Linked DNA regions of Homo sapiens: region 1 is linked to region 2. The links come from fine-mapping of genetic effects on gene expression. A gene starts in region 2. The other region holds a variant in brackets. All regions are shown on one strand. Distances are from middle to middle. Region 1 overlaps ACTR1A (actin related protein 1A). Region 2 holds the start of SLC68A1 (solute carrier family 68 member 1).

What was found. PIP is the estimated chance that this variant, and not a neighbour inherited with it, causes the effect.
Region 1: its variant is the best candidate, but not a certain one, in a credible set for the expression of SLC68A1 in whole blood (TOPMed, PIP 0.56).

Annotation. Positions count from the first base shown.
Region 1 is chr10:102,490,611-102,494,993 of GRCh38, reverse strand. It overlaps ACTR1A (actin related protein 1A), which reads left to right. Exons shown (of 11, transcript NM_005736.4): 2 at 4,381-4,383. Among named protein-coding and RNA genes, the nearest start is that of ACTR1A, 9.9 kb to the left of the region's middle. The variant C/A (reference allele first, on the strand shown) is at 2,449.
Region 2 is chr10:102,459,161-102,463,543 of GRCh38, reverse strand. SLC68A1 (solute carrier family 68 member 1) reads right to left here and starts at 2,149. Exons shown (of 10, transcript NM_024789.4): 1 at 2,094-2,149. It overlaps LOC124902493 (a long non-coding RNA gene), which reads left to right. Exons shown (of 3, transcript XR_007062270.1): 3 at 1,484-2,751. RefSeq lists enhancers at 1,067-1,749, 1,750-2,433, 2,561-2,630 and a silencer at 2,071-2,290.

The DNA.
Region 1 (4,383 bases), 31 kb before region 2:
ACTAAAAATACAAAAATTAGCCGGGCGTGGTGGCGCACACCTGTAACAACAACTACTCAGGAGTCTGAGACAGGACTATCGCTTAAATCCAGGAGGCGGAGGTTACAGTGAGCCGAGATTGTGCCACCGCACTCTAGGTGGGTGACAGAGCCAGACTCCATCTCAAAAAAATTAAAATTAAAATTAAAATTAATATTTTGTAGAGACAGCGTTTTGCCATGTTGCCCAGGCTGGTCTCTCGAACTCTTGGCCTCAAGCAATCCTCCCTCATCTGCCTTCCAAAGTGATGGGGTGACAGGCGTGGGCCACCGCACCCAGCCATACTTTTTGTTTGTTTGGTTGGTTGGTTGGTTGGTTTTGAGACAGGGTCTTATCTTACTCTGTCATCCAGCCTGGAGTGCAGCAGTGCAATTACAGCTTGCTGCAGCCTTGACCTCCCAGACTCAAGTGATCCTCCAACCTCAGCCTCCTGAGTAGCTGGGACCACAGGCACACAACCACCATGCCCAGCTAATTTTTGTATTTTTGTAGAGACGGGGTTTCGCCATGTGCAGGCTGGTCTCGACCTCCCGGGCTCAGGCAGTCTTCCTAGCTCAGCCTCCCAAGTAGCTAGGAGTACAGGCACACATCACCATGCCTGGCTAACTTTTTGGTATTTTTTGTAGTGATGGGGTTTCTCCATTTTGGCCAGGCTGGTCTCAAACTCCTGGCCTCAAAGTGATTTGCGTGCCTCGGCCTTCCTAAGTGCTTGGATTATAGGCATGAGTTACCACACCCAGCCAAGACTACTCAAGAAGCCTCTACCAGGCATTTTTTCATTTGGCCTTGCCAGAGTGAATAACAAAGACAGTGGCAGCTTATTTGCCAGGTACACAGTTCCTAGTTGTAAATACTGTTAAAGAAATGGACATAACCCTTTTGTATGCTCTTGAGCAGAATTTGTGTGGCTTGAGCAGAATTGAGGCAGCTCAGCTGCTCCTCATTCTCCACTGATTCTTCACCCTATGACTGGCATGGCAGGCCTGCTTGGGGGCTGCAAGGACACGCTGGGTCTGGTTCCACCTTGTGCATCACTCCCAGTGCTGCTTTCCCCTTTGCTGAACCGCCTCTGCCTGGGGCTTCTGTCATTTCAGCTGGTCATTCAGGTTCCATACTTTAGGTTCTATCTGCCAGTCATTTGCACTTGATTTTAATTTTACTCAGCCAGCATCTGTTGAGTACCCAGCAAATGCCAGATACTGCCAAAATGTATTTTAGCCTTAAGGAACTTCAACTGAAAAGAGACGAAAGTGGAAACCTTACATTGTAATAAAAAGCAGAATGAAGTGCATGCCACCTCGTGGTACAGGTAATGGAAATTTGCTGTGAGATAATAGGAAGATGATCATTCATTCCAACTGGGGATGTTTCTTCAGGAGGAAGGTGATGATATTTGAACTGGGCTTTTTATACTCTTTGCTAGGAAGGACAGAGAAGAAAAAACAAATCTGACTTCATAATCTGCCTGTTTACCCAGACTCTAGTCCTTTTGCTAGTAAACTAAAAATAAAATACCCAGGAAAATCATCTCTTAAAAATATCCAGGGTCTGAAGGACAGATCTCATCCTCTCTTGTTTTTAACCTCTGCCGGGAGACCCAATTAGTCTGTTGGCATCACCACACCCAGATGAAGGCAGTGAGCAATCATTGGAAGCCTGAGCAAACAAGTTCTAGGAGTTCCCCCCTTGCCTGTCCGTGCCTTGCTCTCAGAGCCCTTGGGTTTGTAGGCAAATTGCCCCTCCTTCCCAGTCTTTCAGCTCACTTGACAGCTGCACCTTTTCCAGGCTCCTTGTTGTACTGCCCAGTCCAATGAGTTTGCACATTGTCTTCTGTTTTCACTCTCTTCTGTTGGCAAAGATTCCTGCTCCCTTAGAGAACTGGCTGCCCTGCTCTCCTCTCATACCACTTTCTCTGCCCTTCAACCACTTCTTTTTTTTTTTTTTTTTTTTTTTGAGGTGGAGTCTCACTCTGTCTCCCTGGCTAGAGTGCAGTGGTGCGATCTTGGCTCACTGCAACCTCCACCTCCTGGGTTCAAGTGATTCTCCTGCCTCAGCCTCCCTGAGTAGCTGGGATTACAGACGTGTAGCACACCTGGCTAATTTTTGTATTTGTAGTAAAGACAGTGTTTTGCCATGTTGGCCAGGCTGGCCTTGAACTCCCTGGCCTCATGTGATCTGCCCCGCTTCGGCCTCCCACAGTGCTGGGATTACAGGCGTGAGCCACCACACCTGGCTTCCTTCAACCACTTGCTTCCTCCACCAACCTCTGTCTTGCCAAAGGCAAGCACCAGATGGCCAGTCTCACTCCCCCTCTTCCTGCAGAAGAGCAGGAATAAGAGAGTCAAGGAGGGAAGCAGGCATGTTGCTGGGAAGCCTTTGGTGCAGATAACCTTGGCTACTTAGAGTCTC[C/A]AGGTGTGTTCAGTGCTTGTAGAATGAGGTCAGTAAATACCACACTCCACCCCAGGAGAGTGGTCAACAGGCAGCAGGAAAAGGCTTGCCCCAGCTACGGGTGCAGCTGCAAACCATGTTGGGTTAGAAAGGTGAGGGTATCAGGTGTGGTGGTAGAAGAGTTAAGAAGGAAGAAGAGGCCAGGCGCGGTGGTTCATGCCTGTAATCCCAGCACTTTGGGAGGCCGAGGCAGGTGGATCACAAGGTCAGGAGTTCGAGACCAGCCTGACCAACACGGTGAACCCTCATCTCCACTAAAAATACAAAAATTAGCCAGGCATGGTGGTGCGCGCCTGTAATCCCAGCTATTCAGGAGGCTGAGGCAGGAGAATCGCTTGAACCCAGGAGGTGGAGGTTGCAGTGAGCTGAGATTGTGCCACCACACTCCAGCCTGGGTGACAGACCGAGATTCTGTCTCAAAAAAAAAAAAAAAAAAAGGCCGGGCACGGTGGGCTCACGCCTATAATCCCAGCACTTTGGGAGGCCAAGGCGGGCGGATCACGAGGTCAGGAGATCGAGATCATCCTGGCTAACACGGTGAAACCCTGTCTCTACTAAAAAAAAAAAAAAAAAATTAGCCAGGCATGCTGGTGGGCACCTGTAGTCCCAGCTACTCAGGAGGCTGAGGCAGGAGAATGGCATGAACCTGGGAGGCAGAGCTTGCAGTGAGCCCAGATTGCACCACTGCACTCCAGCCTGGGCGACAGAGCGAGACTCCATCTCAAAAAAAAGGAAGAGGACAGGGTGTATCTACAAGCAATACTAAGCCTTGACATCTGTCCTGCACAGGGTTGGTCTCTGTGTCCAGAGTCACTGTTTACATTGATTGGGCCCTGGGTGGTACCTGAGATGCTGGGAGAACTCAGATTCTTTTCTGGACACCTCACTCGACATACCAAGTGTTGGAGCAGCAGGACTGTGGTTCTCTTCTATTCTCAGAGTAGGCTTTAGTCTTTGCTTCTCTTTACCATCAGGAGACCAAGGAGTAAAAGGAAAGCATAGTTAAAAAGAAAACAACAACAAAAATCTCCCAAAGCATCGTGCTCTGCCCTTGCAATAAGAACCAGACAGCACGTGTTCCATGGGAGTCCATTTCAAGCATGACAGTGCTCATGGCGGTGTCTGTCACAGAGGCCCTGGAAGCTGGGAGAGTTCAGGCCTGAGCTGGGAAAGTAGGTTAAAAGCACCCCAGGGTGGCGTAACAAGGAGTCATGTGCTTTTCCTACCTTATGTTCCTGAACTTGGCTGCTTTGATGCTTCTAGGTACTTTCTTCTTTCCCCAGGTTTTCTGTCTTTTTCTTCCCTTTATTACTAGTATTTTTAATTCCCAAAGCAAAACATGTTCAATGTAGAAAAGTCAGAGACTACAGAAAAATCACACATACGGTTGTGTATACAGTGAGAATCCTCCTCACCATCCTATTTCCACTTCCCTTCTTTTGGTGTGCATTTACCTTTTTCTAGGTTCAAATAAATGTATATATTATATACAAATATTAGTTTTGTTTTTTTTTTCCTGTGAGACAGAGTCTGTCACCCAGGCTGGAGTGCAGTGGCACAATCTTGGCTCACTGCAACCTCTGCCTCCCAGATTCAAGTGATTCTCCCACCTCAGCCTCCCAAGTAGCTGGAACTACAGGTGCCTGCCAACATGCCCAGCTAATTGTTGCATTTTTACTAGAGACAGGCTTTCACCATGGTGGCTAGGCTGGTCTCAAACTCCTGACCTCAAGTGATCCGCCTGCCTCTGCCTCCCAAAGTGTTGGGATTACAAGTGTGAGCCACTGCGCCCGGCCGCTTTCTTTTCTTAAATAAAAATGGTACCATATAATGTATTTTTCCTTTTGTATTTGTGATAGTTCTGACTCCTCATTCTCTCTCCTCTTTCCTCAGGGA
Region 2 (4,383 bases):
TTCCCCCTTATCAGGCATCCAAATGCCTCCCTTCCCCTCCTCCAGCCCACAGGCTTCTTAAAAGCAGGGCTGATACCGGGCGCGGTGGCTCACGCCTGTAATCCCAGCACTTGGGGAGGCCGACGCGGGCGAATCACGAGGTCAGGAGATCGAGATCATCCTGGCTAACACGATGAAACCTCCTCTCTACTAAAAATACAAAAATTAGCCAGGCGTGGTGGCGGGCACGCCTGTAGTACCAGCTTACTCGGGAGGCTGAGGCAGAATAGCGTGAACCCGGGAGGAGGAGCTTGCAGTGAGCCGAAATCGCGCCACTGCACTCCAGCCTGGAGGACAGAGTGAGACTCCGTCTCTTAAAAAAAAAAAAAAAAAAAGCAGGGCTGGGTTAGTCCCGCCCTTGATCCCTGCCCTTTGCCTCCACCAGGCTCCCTCAGCTTGCTCAGTCAATCCCTGCTGGGTCGATTGGCCCCTAAAAGGTCAATATCAACAACATCCTCAGCCCTAGGGAACAGCAGCAGCAGTCATAGGAAAACTGTCATCTTCAGACCCCACTGTGCCCCTCCTAGCTCTGTGTTCTGCTTAACTGTGGGAGTCAGAGAGAAGGGGCAGCCTGGGAGGCTTGATGTGCCTCTCTGAGTAAGACACTAAAGCAAGGCAGCAGGTACAAAGAAGAATAGTGATCATAACAGAGGAACATTTATTAAGCTTTCGCCGGGTGCACAGCACTGTGCTAAGAGACACAGAAACAATCTGGGAAGAGAGCTCAGAGCAGCGCGGGAGAAAGGGGCCACATCAGGAAGGGTTTTGTAAACCTTGTGCAAGATTCTATGCTGAGGACAACAGGTGGGGCGCTGGGGGTGGGGAAGTGACAGATCTGTTTGGAAGAAGCCCTCTAGCAGGTGTCAAAACTCTTCCCCTTCACCCTACCAGGCCCCTGGTAGGTAAAGACTAGAAAGGGATGGAAGCAGCAACATCTCCCTGATTTCTGAACCAACCTATGGTGGGTGGGGGAGGTTGATGAATTTAGTGGCGGAAACCAAGAATGCCGAACTGGGCCCCTGGAGTGAGAGGTATCAGACTGTACAAGAGACATTAGTGCAGAGGTAAAAGCTAAGAAGAGGCATAATTTGGAGTCAGGAGCCCTGGGTCAGGTGTGAACATTATCTTTAACTTACTATCTGAGTCTATTCCTACATCTGTGAAGCAGAGAAAACAATTCCATTCTCTGCCTATCCTCAGGAATACCAAATGAACAAATGAACATGAAAGGTATAATATGTGCCCTTTTCTCAACAGGCAGCTGACCCCTGAATTGTCTGCTGTGTTTCCTGTTTCACTCTCGGGGTCTTGTCTTCCTGCCCAGTCTCCCCACAGCAGGGTCTAGCACCAGGGTTGGGGGGTGGGGGCCCATCCTCCTCCTCCGGCTGGAAATGAGCTTTCAACTTGTTGAGATGGGGACCTTCTCCCTCTCCCTCCCCCACAGGTCCCAGAAGAGGCGACAGCTTCACCTCAGGACCACCCACCCCTCCCAAGCCACTGAGGAGTTTGGGATCAGCCCAGGAGCTCTTCACTCAATAGCTGGTGCTGAAACACGTGTAGGGCTGCTCCCCACCGCCTGCACGTTAAAATCACCTGAGGAGCTGTGCAATAATACCGAGGCCCAGGCCTCACCCAGAACAGTTAAATCGGAATCTCTTCGGGCGGGCCCAGCATCGGTGTTTTTCAAAGCTCCCCAAGTGCCACCAGGGTTAAATGCCTTTATGCTAATGGCACGGATCCCGACCTGACCAGTGCATCCCTCGATCCCAGACCACCAGGGAGCTATTTGACCCACTGCATCCCTTTCCTCCAGACCCCCGGAGAGCCTTTCTGCGAGGATTCCACCCTTGCCCCCTTGAACCCCGCTTCTTCCGCCCGGACCACACAACTCTCCCAATCCACAATATGATCACCCCAAAGACCCCCGCAGATAGCCCCCATGACTCCCAGAGCGCAAAGCATTCCCCTCCCCCTCGGGTCTGTCGTTTGTGCCAGATCGGCCCCAGCCCAGCCCGCTCCTGCCCGCGAGCCCCGGCCGCTGGCCAGCGTCTCACCGCAATCGTAGCCGGCGAAGCCTAATCCCACGGCTGGCGGGAGCCAGGTGCGAGCCAATGCGCCTGCGCGCACTTCTAGGGCTTCCCCAGCCTCTCCCTCCGCCCCCGCCCAGCGATTGGCTCCGCGCGGCCCCCGGGCGCAGCTCCGGCAGGTGACTGCGCCTGAGGCTGCCGCCGCCATGTTTGTCACGGGCGCTTGCCCTTAGCGACCAAAATTAAAAGCGGACACTGGCAAATAGGGTCAGGTTGCCTGGATTCCTGACCGGCTCAACCCCTCTCCTTTACCTCCACGATAGCTTAATGTCATTTCAGTTGAAACCAACACGTTTTTTCTAAGCGCTCACCTTCCTTCCCTCCTTGCCTAGTACTCGTTGGGAGAACAAAGAGAGGTCAGCATCCTCCATTGAGTCTTGTGGTCTGAGCGGATGCACAGCTGCAGCCGACTTGGAGGTGTCAGCGGCTCGATCTGGGACTCCCTGATGCTGCATCATGAGCCCTTCAAGGGTGGACAGGTCCAGGTTGAGCTGTGGGCACCAGGGCTCTAGCCACAGGAGCCAGGGCTGAAGGTGGGAAACAGCCACCAGGGCCTGAATGAGCAACCATGCAGCACAACCTCTTTGTATTAATAACGGCAATAATAAAACCTAAGGAGTACTGAGTGCTTGCTATGTGCACCGTACTACATTCAGAACAACACGTGCATTCTCTTGTTGAGTCCTCACATCATTCCTAGGAGGTAGGCGCTTTTATCCACATTTTATATGTGAAGAAACTGCATTTCAGAGAGATTCAATGACACGCAAACAGCAAGGGCCCAGTCGAGGTGGAACCCGCTATCCTGACTCCCATAACAAGAGTCTTTCCTCTTCCCACACCTGCACAATCCCTCAAAATCAAGTTTTGTTTGGCTCAATGTAGGCTGTGGAGGATGTTTTATGTTTTCTCCCAATTGGCCTGTAAGCCTGGATAGGTTTTTGGGCAAGCAAACAGCACACATTCCAGCTCTGCCTGGTTCCCCTACCTTGGGACACAGGGCAAAAAGCCTGTGGCCTTTGCCTTATGGGGGACTTGGAACTCAACCCCTAGCTCCAACACTTCTTTGCTAAGGGACTTCTTTATTATTATTTTTTGAAACAGGGTCTTGCTCTGTTGCTCAGGCTAGAGTGCAGTGGTGGCATGATCTCAGCTCACTGTAACCTCCACCTCCCTGGCTCAGATGATCCTCTCACCTTAGCCTCCCAAGTTGCTGGGACCACCACCTCACTCCACCATGCCTGGCTAATTTCTAGAATTATTTGTAGAGATGGAGTCTCACTATGTTACCCAGGCTGGTCTTGAACTCCTGGGCTCAAGGGACCCTCCCGCTTCAGCCTCCCAAAGTGCTGGAATGATAAGCGTGAGTCACTGCACCTGGCTGGGACCCTCCTTTTGTGAGTCTGTTTTATGCTTTACAGGGATTTTTCAGACATTAAATGAGAAACAAGGGTGTAGGAGCTTTGTGAACTGCTCATCCTTATGACCTTCATTGATGGTTGTCGGCTAACTTCCTGCAACAGGAATGTTGTCCTCCTCCTAACAACCACAGCAAATGGTCCAATGTAGACGCCTAGTGTCCAGGGGCTACAGATTATTCAACCAGTTCCTGAGGAGCCCCCAGGGATGCCATGAACCTTGCCCCCAGAATCCATCTCCCACTAACCTGTCTCATTTCCCTCCTTCCCAATCTCTCTCTTTCGGACACCCTTCACACTTCCCATGTCACCCCAAGCCACACATACACGCACACACATACATACAACCATCTCTCTTCTAGACTTAGACAACTGCTGAAACTCCTCCTGATCCAGAAAGCCTCATGAGTAGAAGACAGGTGATCATTTTGTCCCTCTCCTCACCTCTTACCTCCATCTGTGCTTTCCTGGCTGTGAGAACAGAAAACCCAGCATTCAGCCTGGGGTCCGGCACACTGGGATCTCCATACATTTGCTAAAGGAGTCTCCCCGCCTTTCTATCTGTGGCCAGCATGTGCTTTTATTTCAAAGCAAACCCGAGTCTTTACTTAGCCCTCCCTGGGTATCCAGTGGGGAAATGGAAATGGGGAGGGCTGGCAGGGGCCAGAGCTGGATGTGACCCAGGAGAAAAGACCTTTGGTCCCTCACAGCCAGGCAAGGTGGCTCACACCTGTAATCCCAGCACTTTGGGAGGCTGAGGTGGTTGGATCACGAGGTCAGGAGATCGAGACCATCCTGGCCAACATAGTGAAACCCCATCTCTACTAAAATACTAAAAT